Linked DNA regions of Homo sapiens. The protein of the gene in region 1 purifies or fractionates together with the protein of each later gene. This does not show direct contact. Each region holds a gene or a part of one and is shown in the gene's direction. Other genes may lie near its edges.

The links. The genes of interacting proteins can lie anywhere in the genome.
Region 2: the proteins of FERMT1 (region 1) and SKIC3 fractionate together in Homo sapiens (co-fractionation; one large-scale study listed by BioGRID). This does not show direct contact.
Region 3: the proteins of FERMT1 (region 1) and RNASEH2B fractionate together in Homo sapiens (co-fractionation; one large-scale study listed by BioGRID). This does not show direct contact.

Annotation. Positions count from the first base shown.
Region 1 is NC_000020.11:6,112,138-6,117,151, reverse strand, and holds part of FERMT1 (fermitin family homolog 1), read left to right. Parts: intron 1-1,107; coding exon 1,108-1,341; intron 1,342-4,528; coding exon 4,529-4,675; intron 4,676-5,014. UniProt on the Homo sapiens protein: Involved in cell adhesion. Contributes to integrin activation. When coexpressed with talin, potentiates activation of ITGA2B. Required for normal keratinocyte proliferation.
Region 2 is NC_000005.10:95,527,056-95,532,069, reverse strand, and holds part of SKIC3 (superkiller complex protein 3), read left to right. Parts: intron 1-1,840; coding exon 1,841-1,981; intron 1,982-2,967; coding exon 2,968-3,069; intron 3,070-3,917; coding exon 3,918-4,057; intron 4,058-5,014. UniProt on the Homo sapiens protein: Component of the SKI complex, a multiprotein complex that assists the RNA-degrading exosome during the mRNA decay and quality-control pathways.
Region 3 is NC_000013.11:50,943,199-50,948,212, forward strand, and holds part of RNASEH2B (ribonuclease H2 subunit B), read left to right. Parts: intron 1-122; coding exon 123-196; intron 197-2,228; coding exon 2,229-2,334; intron 2,335-4,788; coding exon 4,789-4,870; intron 4,871-5,014. UniProt on the Homo sapiens protein: Non catalytic subunit of RNase H2, an endonuclease that specifically degrades the RNA of RNA:DNA hybrids. Participates in DNA replication, possibly by mediating the removal of lagging-strand Okazaki fragment RNA primers during DNA replication.

The DNA of each region.
Region 1 (5,014 bases):
GATTCTATTTTAATGCCAACGTTAAAGGAGGGGAAAGATTGACATTGGTGCTAACATTGAAAGGGAGAAAATATTTTAACTCTGACTTCAATTTGGACACTTTGGATATGGTGGTACTGATAAAGAGTTGGAGATTACTGAGAAGAATGAAATGTCAGTTGTACAGTACTTCTGTGTGGACTTTGATTGGAGGCTATTGCTACTCCCTTGTGACACAGTGGTATAAGGATACATTTCTATAAGAGAAATAATCTTGATTAAACAAAGTCAGATGCTTTCTCAGAAAGGGCCATGGCACAGAGATTTTAGCGAACAGAACTTTAGCATTCATTGTGAACACATTTTTATGTTTCTTTTCCTCCACGGTATCTAAATGTAAATGATGGTAAGATTTAGTCCCTATTTTCCATTTTTTTTTTTTTGAGACAGAGATTTGCTCTTGTTGCCCAAGCTGTAATATAATGGTGTGACCTCGGCTCATTACAATCTCCACTTCCCGGGTTCAAGTGATTCTCCTGCCTCAGCCTCTGGAGTAGCTGGGATTAACAGGTGCGCACCACCACACCTGGCTAATTTTTGTATTTTTAGTAGAGACAGGGTTTTGCCATGTAGGCCGGGCTGGTCTCGAACTCCTGACCTCAGGTGATCGCTTGCATCAGCCTCCCAAAGTGCTGAGATTACAGGTGTGAGCTACAGCACCCGACCCTATTATTTTTTCTTTTTCTTTTTTAATTATTTTATCTTTAAATTTTTTTATTTGATTTAATTTTTTAAATGTTTTTTATTTTACTTTAAGTTCTGGGATACATGTGCAGAACATGCAGGTGTGTTATATACGTATACATGTACCATGATGGTTTGCTGTCCCATCAACCCTGTCATCTACATTAGGTATTTTGCCTAATGCCATCCCAGTCCCTATTTTTTCCCTGGAGACTTTGGAAAGAAGCCAAAAGTTGTTAAGCCTTGAATTGTAAAAGGCCATGAGGAGCTGGAGATCAGTTGTTGGTTTCCATTTTCGCACACAATGAAATTGACTCTGCAGCTCCAGGACCCTCCAAGCTGGGCCCTCTCTCATTTTACTTAATTGTGCTTTCATTTTTGCAGATATATCCCAAGACTGGTCAGACTTTGCTCTTTGGTGGGAACAGAAGCATTGCTGGCTTCTGAAAACCCACTGGACCCTGGACAAATATGGGGTCCAGGCAGATGCAAAGCTTCTCTTCACCCCTCAGCATAAAATGCTGCGCCTTCGTCTGCCGAATTTGAAGATGGTGAGGTTGCGAGTCAGCTTCTCAGCTGTGGTTTTTAAAGCTGTCAGTGATATCTGCAAAATCCTGAGTAAGTACCCAGGAAAGGCCCCTGTGCCCTGTAGACTCTTGCAAAGCTAGACAGGAAAATTATGTGTGCATTCTGCCTACTTCAAGTAATTGCTACAGAACACTCACCTATTAGGAAGCACATGTTTAAGCCCTTCTGGGTATTGCAGCCATTTAAGTGGAGTTAAGCCAAGTGGAACATTATTGGCATAAATCAGGTACATCTCCACAAAGCTTAAAACTATTCCAAAAGAGATTTGTTAATAGACAAGATAAACCACTAAGATTGCCCCCCAAAATTTATTGATCCAAGCTATACTCAAACATTATTGTACAGTATTTAAGATTTAAAGAGTTGTATTAAATACTTAATCACCATAGAGCTATGTGTCTTTATTGTTTTTGAGATAATGGTGTTCCAAAGTCTTAATTGCTTAAGACCTGGCTCAAGTAAATAACTCTGCCCATAAAAATCACTTATGAAGTGATTAAGCAGAAAAGTACACTTAATTGTGAATTTAAACCTAATTATTTATAGATTTGGTATCCTATAATTTAACAGTCGTAAAGACAACACTACCCAAACCAATTTTTCTTTATAAAACTCCATAAAGGGAAGGAAACACCCCATGAAGGTATTCTCATTTTATAATTTTTGAAAGTATTATAGGTGTATTCATTGGTTCCAAAACCAAAAATCAACATTTGAACCCAGAATAGATAATATATAGTGATATATAGTGAGTAATCTATTTTTCCCATTAAACCATAAACTATTCACTCATTCAGCAAATATTTATTGAGCACCTACTGTGTCCCAGGCATTGTGGTGAGTGCTAGGGATATAGTAGCAATACAGAGCTAAAATCCCTGCCACCTGGAGCTTACATTTTAGCAGGCAGAGACAGACACTAACCAATAAATGTAAATGTAACAAATTTTAAAATATAAATGGAACAAGTTAAAAAAGAATATAAGAGGTTAAAATGGGATGGATAGTACCCCAAAAAAGAGAAAAAGTATGAGCAGGATTGGGAATGCCAGGGTTGGGCAGTGGGGGCTGGTATGGTATATGAAGTAGGGTGAGAGCAGAAACCGTTTCCTGAGCATCTCTGCATTCCTCACTCCAGTCACAATGCCTAGCATACAATAACTGTTGAGTGAACAAATGAATGGAAACTTTCATTACAGAATGTAAGTTGCAGTCTTGTCCCTGGTGTGCAAATGGCAAGCATGAGGACACCTTGTGTTTTTGGTAATATTCTAATGAGGATTTGAAAGCAAAGTAAATGATTACATAAAATAGTATATTGCATACACCACAGTGGACTGGAAGCACACATCACAGCTGATACCAAAAATGTAAAGTTTTCAAGTAAACAGAAGCAGTCAGATGTTCTCTTTTCCTGATTATCTCTTTGTAATAGTTTTAAAGGCTCAGCGTGGCATTTCTAATCATTGCATTTTATATCTTATCAATTGAAGTGAAATCAAATGCAGCAGTTTAGTGGTTTTTCCCTTGAAGAACAGAAAAGACACAAATCTTAACCTTGAAGATACAGGTGTTTCTGTTTCATTGTTTTGCTTTTAGTGCTCACAGTGAAATTTTTTATTCATGACCGAGTTTGTGTATAAATTATGCATTTGGAATGGTCACACGTGTGTTGCAACCTGACAATCCTTGGCTGCTGGGGAGAGTCAAGCTAAACTGCTAGGCTCAGTCTCAACACTGAGCAGTATATGAACGAAATGATGAGAGAACTTAATGGAATCAGTGCACTTACCTTCAACAAAGCTGCTCAGAAACTAAAAGTCCAAATTAATTGGTTTTTACCTGGAATGATAGCCACTAGTGTAGTTAAAGGTTATCAGCAATTCTGATCAGCAATTATAAATATATTTGATTAATGGGAGAAATGGGGATTACCATAGTTTCAGTTCCCAGAAGAAGACCCTGAGATAAGGATTCAAGTACAAATAGTTTATTTGGGAGGTGATGCCAGGAAATACTGTTGGGGACAGGGAAGTAAGACTGAAAAGAGAAGAGTGTCACCAATCAGGTTACACTTCAGCAGCTGGTGACCCCTGGGAGACAGTGTAGACACAGCCTCAGGGTAAGGATGTTTATGCAGCACCCTGGATAGTCACTGAAGGTTGCTCTTGGGGAGCATTAATTCCCGGAATATGTGGGCTGTTGCAGTGCAGACCCTGGTGAGCCATCAGAGCAAAGCCTCTGGCAGAAAGATGCATGGTCTAGATTCCGCCAGAAGCCAGGTGTGCTGAAATGGTGAGGACCAAGAAGAAATGGGCAGGGCATGAGGGTGTCACCACAGGGATAAAATGAGCTGATGGGCAATGTGTAAAAGAAAGACGTTCAAGATCTGTGATCTATAAAGAAAAAAGGAAGCAGGACCTTTGTTGGTTGTTTAAAAAACTGGAAAAAGGAAAGGGAGAGGGAGCAAGGAAGGGAAGTCTATTAGTTCATTTTCATGCTGCTGATAAAGACATATCTGAGACTGGGCAATTTACAAAAGAAAGAAGTTTAATGGACTTACAGTTCCACATGGCTGGGGAGGCCTCACAATCATGGAGGAAGGCAAGGAGGAGCAAGTCACGTCTTACATGGATGGCAGCAGGCAAAGAGAGAGCTTGTGCGGGGAAACACCCTATAAAACCATCAGATCTCATGAGACTTATTCACTATCATGAGAACAGCACAGGAAAGACCTGCCCCCATGATTCAATTACCTCCCACTGGGCCCCTCTGACAACACATGGGAATTCAAGATGAGATTTGGGTGGAGACACATCCAAACCATATCAGGAAGAAAGGGGAGAGGGAGGTAAAGTTGGTGGTAAATAGGTAACAAGAATAGCATAATGCTAGTAATGACTGAAGCTGGGGAGCCCATGAAGGGGACATTATACCATTCCCTTTGCTTTAGATACATTTGAAATATTTTTATAATAATTTTTCTAACCAGAAATTTCACTAGACTGAATCTCCCTCCACCGTTTTCTCCCCCCACCTACTTTGGAGGTCTCTGTTCCCCTTTCCCCTTCTGTTTCTTCAAAAGGGATGCAGTTTAGTCCCATTTACTTTTCAGAAATTTCCTGAGAAATGATTTTAAATGCACAAAATGACCCTGAGTCTTAGAAGGAGTTTTCTTTTTACTTTTTCTTCATTTTTAAAAAATATTTATTTCTAGATATTAGAAGATCAGAAGAGCTTTCCTTGTTAAAGCCGTCTGGTGACTATTTTAAGAAGAAGAAGAAAAAAGACAAAAATAATAAGGAACCCATAATTGAAGATATTCTAAACCTGGAGAGTTCTCCAACAGCTTCAGGTTCATCAGGTAAGACTTGTTACAGGTGTTTTGTTGTTTGAACGTACAGTAAAACTCAAGAGAGAAATATATCTCTCCTCCCACCCCCACCAAACAAAGGAGAAATAAAATTGCAGAACTGATGTGATGAGGAAAGGCTATCTAGTCAAGTTTAGAATTAACAGAAATGTGTTTCAGACTTTTTTTCATCAAGCATGTTTAATAACTCATTACTTGAATTGTATATCTGATGTTGCCAATGAATGCAAAATTTTAGTACCACTGACCACAAATTTGGGATAAAAGAGTGATATTTAGAAAACAGGTAACTGGCTGGTCACGGTGCCTCATGCTTGTAATCCCAGCACT
Region 2 (5,014 bases), on another chromosome or scaffold:
GTTTAGACTGAGATGGGTAGAGATAAAAGATAAGAGTTTGGTAGCTATTTTTTTTTAGGATGGTGAAGATTTTTAATTTTTTGTAGTAATTTTCAGCTGTTACCTATTAACAGACTAAGCCTTTTTGAATATCAGTTCATAATGGTATTTTTAAAGGATCGTCACAAGATTTAATGAACACCTACCACATATCAGATGCCATGCTGGTCTGTACTCTCCAGAGGTTACCATTTAGCCACAGAGGCAATAAGGGCAGAATATACATGTTATAAGACTAATAGTAAAGGTCATATATGGTATTAGCAAATATTGTAGACCTGTGGTCTTTAAGTATGATATCTGGACCAGTAGCATCAGCATCACCTGGTAACTTCTTAGAAATGCAAATTCTTAGGTCTTAAACAGACCTACTGAACCATAAACTTCAGGGATAGGGCTCAGCAGACTGTGTTTTAACAAGTCTTCCAAGTGATTCTGATAGTGCAGACAATGTCTAGTTTAGACAATACCACTGGATCAAAAGGGAAAAAGCTGCTAGTTTTCTTGGGAGGGTATAGGGTGTATGGAACTAGACATATCTATTTTTGGAATTCATATTTATGGAAGCTATGGTGAGAAAATATTGACAAGGAAGTTCATGCCTGGAAGCATAATAGTAGCAGGCTTGTGTCTTTTTCACTGGCTTACTAATCAAAGTAGTATTTCTTCCAATTTGTTTTCATATTTTGCCAAATATACTGAAGTTTTAACTCTTTAGCCATTATTAATTCTTTTCATTTTTGGTGCCAACTTGGATTTCTAAATCAGTATATAACATATTACTACATATTACTAATGGATTATACATTGGTTTGCAAATGGTTTTTAAAATTTGAAATATATGAGCTACATGGTATTATGCAAATAATTTACCTTTGACATCTGTAACTGAAACAGTGGTTCTACATGTGGTTTGGGCTTCTATGTTTTATATAGTTATTAAAGCATCGGGTCTTTTTTTTTCAGGAATTTTTTTTGTTTCCCATATTTATTGCTTCAAGTTGTAGTTTGTCTTTTTAAGAATTCTCCTATGTGATTAAATGATTTATTAAACTTGTGAATGCTATTCACAATTTATTCTAAAACAGAAATTACAATTTTTTGTTTGTTTTGATGCTTTTGTGGGATTGAGATTGGGGAAAATGGAAATATTACAAAATATATAATGTTTTCTAAACTATTTTACCAAAATAAATTTGAAAATAAAATAAATGTAGGCATTGGATGACTATCTCATAAGTGTCACAATTCACTTATATAGAAAAAGATAGTTTTAGAAAAATGTGGAAATGTACTGGTAAATTTGTAGACTTAAGAGGAATGTGACTAAGTCTTTGTGCAGTGTCCTGATGAGTAACCCGCCTATCTTGTGATCCTTGGATGCTGGAAGAGTCTGCTGGATCTGACTAACATGTCTCTAGCAGCGCATGGTTGCCCAGGAAGAGAACTTGAGGAAGACACTCTGCTTTGACAAGGGCTCCTTCATTTGACAACCAAATTGTTACAGCTGGCAAGCAGTAGGCTATGTGGCTTAGTCTACTGGCAAGTAGCAGGTTTCTTGTCTGAAATCCTAAAGTGGTTTCTACTTCCAGTATTTAAGAAGATGAAAAATCATAATTATTTAAATTAAATGTTAATATTTTCTGCATTTGCTGGTCTATTTAAATTTTGAATTTCTGGAGTCAGCATGTGGTGAAGAATGCATAAGAATATAAAGGCAGATTTTGAGATTTAAGAATATGGGTTTGGGCATTTAGAAACTCGATATATGTATACTAATAACCTTTCCTTTTAATTCCAGGAAATCTTACTGATGAGGGGCAGCAGTATTGTTGTAGATTAGTGGAAATGGATTCAAAAAGTGGTCCAGGCCTCATTGGCTTAGGCATTAAAGCATTACAAGACAAAAAGTATGAAGATGCTGTTAGGAACCTAACAGAAGGTAAATGTACAGTGTATGGCATGTAACGTGAAGTATAATTATTATTCAGTCAGTAGGCATTTATCTTTGAGCCTTTCTTTAAGGAATGTCTATCTAAGGTGGAAGGGAAAAAATGTACCTGCATACCTTGGACTCTGCTTAGGTTTGAACTCTGACTCTGCTTATCACTAATTTCAAGACCTCAGAAGAGTTAAACTTACTGTGTGTCAGTGTTTTCATTTGTAAAATAGGTATATCTATATAGAAAGAGAGAAAAAAGAAAAGAAAGAAAGCAAAGCAAAAAGTAAATTGGGAGGGAGAGGGAGGGAGGGAGGGAGGGAGGAAGGCAGACATGTAGATATATATGCATTAGGAACTTAGGCTTTAACTTAGTCTTACTAGGTATGATGTTTCTGGAAGAACCTACATTCAAATTATAGATCTGAATGGTAAATACAAGCCAGGTAGGTGGTTGAAGGGAATGGGAAGAACATTTTAGGCAGAGATGAATCTGTGAAATAGCCTGAGCTAAGAGGAAAACTGTTGTTCAGAGAACTGCAGGTAGTTCACCAGGGTTTGAGAATGAAGTGTATGTACAGGAGGGGACAAGAAGTGAGATTGTAGAAGGGCCTAGCAAGACTTGGTAAGGAGTTTGCACAGTATCCTGACAACAGTGGGGAATCAGTAAAAGATTTTTAGCAGGGGAATTTTATAATCTGATTTGTCTTTTTAGAGATATTCTAGCTACAGTGTAAAGAATGCATTGGGGTGGATGGCAAGCACTTGTAGTGATTTGGGATAAAGATGGTGGAGGTCTGAACTGACGTGGAGATGGAGAAAAATGTATGGTGGGGAATGAATTGAGGCAGAGAATCAGTGTGACTTTGTGACTGATGAGATATGAGAGATGAAGAGGGGAGGAGTCTGATTTGGAGAGTAGGCATTGGTGCTGTTCATCTATGTAGTCACAGAAACCTTGTTTTTTGTGATTGTTTTTATCCTTTTAGGGTTAAAGGAAAGCCCTGTCTGCACAAGTGGATGGTATCATCTGGCAGAAGCCCAAGTCAAAATGCATAGACCTAAAGAAGCTGTTCTTTCATGCAGTCAAGGTATTTTTGATACTTTTTGGGTTGACATATAAGGGTGACCAACCCTATTTGTTTTTATCTTAAAGGACAAAGATAGTGATTTTTAAAAACCAAAATGCTATATTTTGTATTTTAAATTGCTAATTTTAATTTCAATAAGTTTAAATAAAAGTCTGCATGCATGTGTACTAGTGTGTTTATTTTTAAACTGACAATGAATGTTTAGCAAAATTTTCCTGCATTTGGAATATTGACATAGTCAGTTTAGGCTTGGGTGTGGAGGTCCTCTGTCTTTGTAACAAGGAAGTTTCTGGTGTGTCCAAGACACATGAGTTCTTAATTTCTCTCATATAGAGAGGGGAAACCTTAGGCATCTTGGAGCCTATTTGAATGTGACAGGGTGAGGGGTGGGGATAGGAAATCATGAAAGTGGTTCACTGTTTCTGACCCACCTGGTAGCTTGCTCCCTGTAACTAAGAAACAGTTCACCTTGGTCCATTCTAATTCAGCTGCTTTCCCCTTCCAGTATCCTTAATTTCTTATATTTGTTACAGGTGCTTTGGTTGTGGGCTAACCTTTATTGTTTAGCAAATATAGATAGCCATTGTCGTTTTTTAGGATATTCAGTTTTATTATATGTTGTGTGAAGATAGAGGTTTTAAATTCAGATATGTTCTGTTTTAAATTCAGGTCTTTCCATAAGGAAGTCAGGGAAGAATTTATATTTAGCTTTGAGTTATTCTTCATGTATATTGTTTTGGAAATTTATGCTTATTGTATCTGCAATTTATTATATGTCATCCTTAAAAAAGAAAAAATAAACAGAAGTGATATGGCTGTCTTCATTTGGATACCCTTAATTTTGTCAGCTCTGAAGATCGTAGATAATCTTGGTGCGTCTGGTAACAGTCTTTATCAGAGGAATCTTTGTCTTCATTTGAAAGCAGAGGCTTTGATTAAACTCTCAGATTATGACTCTTCAGAGGAAGCAATTCGTACGCTTGATCAGGTAGACTTGTCAAGTTTTTTTCTTCAACTCTAGTTAGTTTCCAATCAACCAGGCAACAACCATTCTCTGCCTACCACAAAATTTACTTATATGGATTTTGTGTTAGAGGTATGAATTCACCACATCTGCACTTTTATAAGTCATTCATACATTTGGGAACTTCTAAAGTTATTTGTTTGCTTTTTGATTAAGGACTTATAGTACTCATCATATAAGACTATTTCGTTAGTTCTAGACTTCATTCTCGTTTCTTCCTTTTGCCCTCTTAGGTTATTACTACTTGATTATTATTAATTTGAGATTCCAAATTTTTTCCTTCAGGAAGTGTTCTGCAGATTTGACAAGAATAATTAAGGACACTGTTAGCTTCATGGTAGAGAATGTTTATTTGTTTCATTCAAAGAAAGATTCATATTTCATAATGAAACCGATTTCTTAGTGTTTTGAGTTAAAGCAATTTGAAAGTCCATAGTGAAAAAAACTATAACTGGTAAATTATGAATTATAGCATTATGCCCTAAAGATTTTTGTCAGGTAAAGACTATTACTGGTCTAAATTAAAATTGAGTTTTTAAATCAGTTTTATGTATTTCAAAGGGCTTTGTATTTCATAATATTTCTTTAAAATCAGAACCGTTGTCAGCATCTTTCAACAATTAATATTTTCTTGTTTTCTTTTTGCCATCCCACCAATAATGTGTTTTGTGTGAATGCTTTATAAAGGTTTTTCAAATAATGTTTTCACAAAAAAACAAATGACTGCTATTTTGGAGAACTAGCAGAGTCCAGGTCTGAGATAGAAAATGTACAAGATGAACCAAGAACACCTTGTCATGCTAGAAAGCAAGAAACTATAAAAGGGCTCAGACTACAAAAGGGCTCAAGAGCTAGCATAAAGAGATTCTTACTGGCTAAAAAGGGCGTTACTAATGTGGTATGTTGAAACAGATCAAATAT
Region 3 (5,014 bases), on another chromosome or scaffold:
TTAAGCTTTTCAAGAATTTAAACTTACAAAATATTCTTTAAATGGTTAACTTGTATATGATACAACCTTAGGAGTTTATTTTTTTTTTAATTCATTGTGCTGAGTCTTTTTTTTCTTTTAAGGTAATCCAGAAATAGACAACAAGAAATATTACAAGTACAGCAAAGAGAAGACATTAAAGTGGCTGGAAAAAAAGGTATAGTTCCTCTCTAGTGCCTTGTGGTAAAAGTAAAAATTCAGTTCTCTAAGAAATTTTCAGAGAAGGCAGTAAGTCTGAATCCAGAGACCATCTTGTATATTCAGTGAAAAGAGGAAAATTGTGTAGAGATACCAAGTATGAGAAGAAGGCTTTGACTTTTTAATCCTCCCTAACTTCTGTATCTCTGAAGTTAGCTTTATGTTTTCTTGTGACCTGCATTCTCGTTTCTCCCTGCTCCTACTACGGAATGAAATAATTTGTTGGTGTAGATTTGAGTCTTCCAAGTAAGAGGATACCAGGCTTGGCACTTGTTGGCCACTGTCAGTCCTGCAGGTGTCTCCAAGGGTGATGCTTACACACAGCCAGGCAAAGGGACCCAGGGACACAGCCAGGCAAAGGTGTTCAGGTTTAGAGGAAGTATGTCCTGCTCTCAGGGTCTGGACACTGATGAGGGGTCATCTTACAGGCAAACCCTGTATCTTAGTGATTCTAAGAATCTTGACCTAATGGATGGACTGGGGCAGTGAATTTCAAATCAATTTAGTAGGTAACAACCAGTATTTCTCTTGGAATGAAACAGATTGTGATGGGATGGGACGGGACAGGACGGGATGGGATGGGACGGGACGGACGGGACGTGATGGGACGGGACGGGATGGGATGGGACGGGATGGGATGGGATGGGTTAAAATATAGCAGAGGAAGGGCAGGTATTAAGTATGGCTCTGTGAAATGTATTTATATGTGTTTAAGTATTGGGTTGCTGTATATTTCTTACTATGGGTTGTGATAAAAAAAAAACTTTGAAAGCCACTGGTCTAAGGATAATATGTACTTTCACATTGATTAAGAATCTCGCTAAACCATATAGAATAATGATAAAGTTTTTGCAAGATCAGTGGATACCAGTAGTTGTAGTACTGTTTCCTAAGATTCTCTTCCATCTTTTGTGTGAAAAGTCATGTTTGTCTGCATGTTCTCTCTCATAAGTGGGAGTTGAACAGTAAGAACACATGAACACAGGGAGGGGAACATCACACACCGGGGCTGTTTCGGGGGTTAGGGGCAAGAGGAGGGAGAGCATTAGGACAAATATGTAATACATGTGGGGCTTAAAACCTAGATGATGGGTTGATGGGTGCAGCAAACCACTGTGGTACATGTATACCTGTATGACAAACCTGCATGTTCTGCACATGTATCCCAGAACTTAAAGTATAATAAATAAAAATAAATAATAATAAATAATAAATAAATTGTGTTTATTTGTCATACCATGTTACCAGGCTCATTGAAAGCCTGGGAAGCTGGAAATGAGTCCAGTAGAATAATCAGTCTCCTAATGTGCAAAGTAGTGGAAAGATTTAGAGTGCCATGTTTCATTTTTTATTTGTGATATAGTAGTAGTAGTATTCCATGTAGGCGAAGAATGAGAATAAATGCGGAGCAGAATCCTTGATGTTTACTTTTGCTCTTAGCCAAGGAAAATGACATGAATAGCGAAGAGGAGTTTATACTTACTGATTATATTTCCTAGGAAGTGGGAAATTTATATTATTCTATTTAGGAAGTTATTACATATAAATTTTGTGCCAGGTTCTATTGTAAGGGCTTTATTTACATATATTACCTCATTTAATTTTCACAGTAGTCTTATGAGGTGAATGCTATTTTTTTCCCCCATTTCACAGATAGAGCCACAGAAAGGTTAAGTAACTAGCCGTGGTTACAGAGCCAAGCCCAGCAGCCTGACTCCAGAGTCAGCTCTCAGTTATCACAATATGTTGCCTTCTCATATTGTGTAGGCCATGGAAGTCCATGTATTGAGATCATCCAGATATTGCTGCCACTCAGCCTTTCTTCAAATGGGCAACCATTTCTCATCTTCTGGTGTCTGGTGAAGATACTTCTAGGTTCTCAAATACTTCTTTGCAGATCTCTTAAATGGTCTGAAGGCCACCTATGAATTCATAGATTTCTAAAGTTAAGTTGAAAATACCCTGCCTTTCCCCTCTTGGTTGCTTCATAGGTTAATCAAACTGTGGCAGCATTAAAAACCAATAATGTGAATGTCAGTTCCCGGGTACAGTCAACTGCATTTTTCTCTGGTGACCAAGCTTCCACTGACAAGGAAGGTAAGTAAAGCATTTTATCAGAAAAGATTTTTGTCTGGAGTAAGTTGCTTATGTGTAAATGCCTATCTTAGGATTTAAAAATCTTAATATCACAGAAGCCTCATATTCCTACCAATGCCTCATACACATTGTGGCAGGTGTGCATCTTATTTCAGAAGCGAAGAATATTTCTACCATAGGTTACTTCTGTCATTCATTGATACTTAAGTTATTTATTCAGCAAATATTTCTTTTACATTGATAGTAGTAACAACCCTGGCTATCATTTATTGAGGGTGTATTGTGTGCCAGGCCCTTTGCTAAGTTGCCACTATACAAACATGATCTCATCCAACCCTCCCAGTAAATTTCATAATGAGCATCTTGAGGCCCTGTGCAAAGTCTCACAACTAGTAAATGCCAAAGCTGAGCTACTTATGGAGCTTGTCTCTGAAGCCCACACTTGTAATCTTTTTGTGATACTGTTCCTGTGGCACAGTTGTACTGTTCCAGTGGCTGCATCTGTTTGCATTTTCTTCTCAAGATGCATGTTTCCTGATACAGGGATCAATATATTTTGATTTTAGATGAAAATTGATTTACTTGGCAATTTTTCTTTTAGGTTATTCTTTTATAATCTAAAAAAGGTATATTATTTTCTTTTCCAAGTAGAGTCCTCTTATTTTTATATGTATAGTTGAATAAGAACAGCTATATAATGCAGTTAACAATCTCAAATGGTGAGACAGAAATTATTCTGACGTTAAACTCCAATTCATTGTTCCCTTATTCAGGGTATACATATGGCTTTAGTCATTACATAAATAAAAACTAGGAATAGTGGCCTGTTTGTGATTGATAGTAATTCAGGCAATCTGATTTGCAGGAATCTACCTTGCATGTATAGGTAGTTGGCTACTGCCATTCTGGGAGTGGTGGACAGCACCTTTGCCATACTGAGTTACCAGCTGTCAGTGTCTTTAATTGGCTTTAACAATAGAAGATGAGGGATTGAGATAGATGATTAATGGATAGATAGGTGGGTGGATAGATGCATCCATGGATGGATGGATGGAACCATAGATTTTGTTTTAAAAGTAGGAGAAGGGATGTTAGAGGTTATTTAGACAGATCATCTCATTTTTTAAATGGAGAGGTAGGTAACTTATCCTCAAGATCTTCTGTTCTAAGTCTAGTGCTTTTACCAGTACTCTACATATTAAGGTTCTGGGCTTGGCTATATTGCCATTTAGTGTCCTGACCATAAAGTAAACTTTACATATTTTACATTATTTCATTTTTTAGATATTTAGGTTGGTTTGGTACCAGAAGCAGCAAATGAACTATATGTTGACTTTCTTAAAATAGTTTTCTTGGTCTAGTCATGACTCATTGGATAATGACTATCCCAGATCCATGAGCAATTTTAAGAAGGGTCAAATGATAACTTTCAGTTCTCCATTGACAATGAAAATCTCTTACTGAAGACTTTTTGACATCAGGTGGTCCCCAGACGGCAGTCATTTTCTATGTAATACTGAGGCAAATTGTTACTTTGACTTGAGAGCAGAGGAGAATGGAAAAAAGGAAGTGAGTGAATATCCCAGCAGCAAACCTGGGGTCTGCTTTTGGTGCTTTATATCCCCACGTGGTTATCCCATCTTATGATTAAGTTTGATTATCTGCTTGTATTCTACATAAAATACTGAATTCAGGAACAGAGTTTTGAAACATTTTATTGTCTTCTTATGTAACTGTATTTCTAATTGCTGCCAGAGCTGCATTTTAGTACTGAGAATCCAAATGCTTTAGAATTAATGATGATAAATTCTGCTGAGTTAGTTGTTTAAGTTTAAGTATTTTATTAGTTTGGGAGTGTGTGTGTGTGTGTGTGTGTGTGTGTGTGTGTGTGTATGTAGAACTATGTATATAGAACAATATGTATGTATAGAACTATATATATATATTTCAGGGTTCTTATAAAGCAAATACCTAGTAGTAGAGACATGGTATTTTATTTCTCTTAAATGAGTACACTCATTACTGTTGAATAATTAGATTTATTCTTTATTGAAGCAGGCTTAGAAAAGATTACCCTTTTAAAAAAGACATGACTATTTCATATTGTTGTAGATGATTTTTAAACTTTATTTGTATTCAGTGGTTTCAAATAAGAAAGCAACCCTGAGTTTTTGTTTTTAATGTCATTTAGGGAGCATCTACTGTATTATACTTGTTTTATCTTATATCTTTGGTATCATCACATGTCATATCTCATCCCTCATATCTTCCCACTAGTCTGACCGATAGATATTACTATCCCCATTTTACAAATGAGAAAACTGAGGCTAGAGCTTAAGTGAGTTCCCTTTATCCAGATAGGGTCAGAATTTGAATTCAGGTCAATTTGACTATAAAACCACCATAATTACTATTTTTTTTTTTTGCTTTCACTCCTCCTTCTGTTTCTTTCAGAGGATTATATTCGTTATGCCCATGGTCTGATATCTGACTACATCCCTAAAGAATTAAGTGATGACTTATCTAAATACTTAAAGTGAGTATTGATTATCTTCAGTCATAATGAAGTACCATTTGCTTCTTGGTTTCCCCAGCAGTGGGGTTTCCTTATGGCTTATCATATCACTGTTTATGATACAAGATTATTCTTCAGCTATGTCATATACTTTGTGCTTTGGGG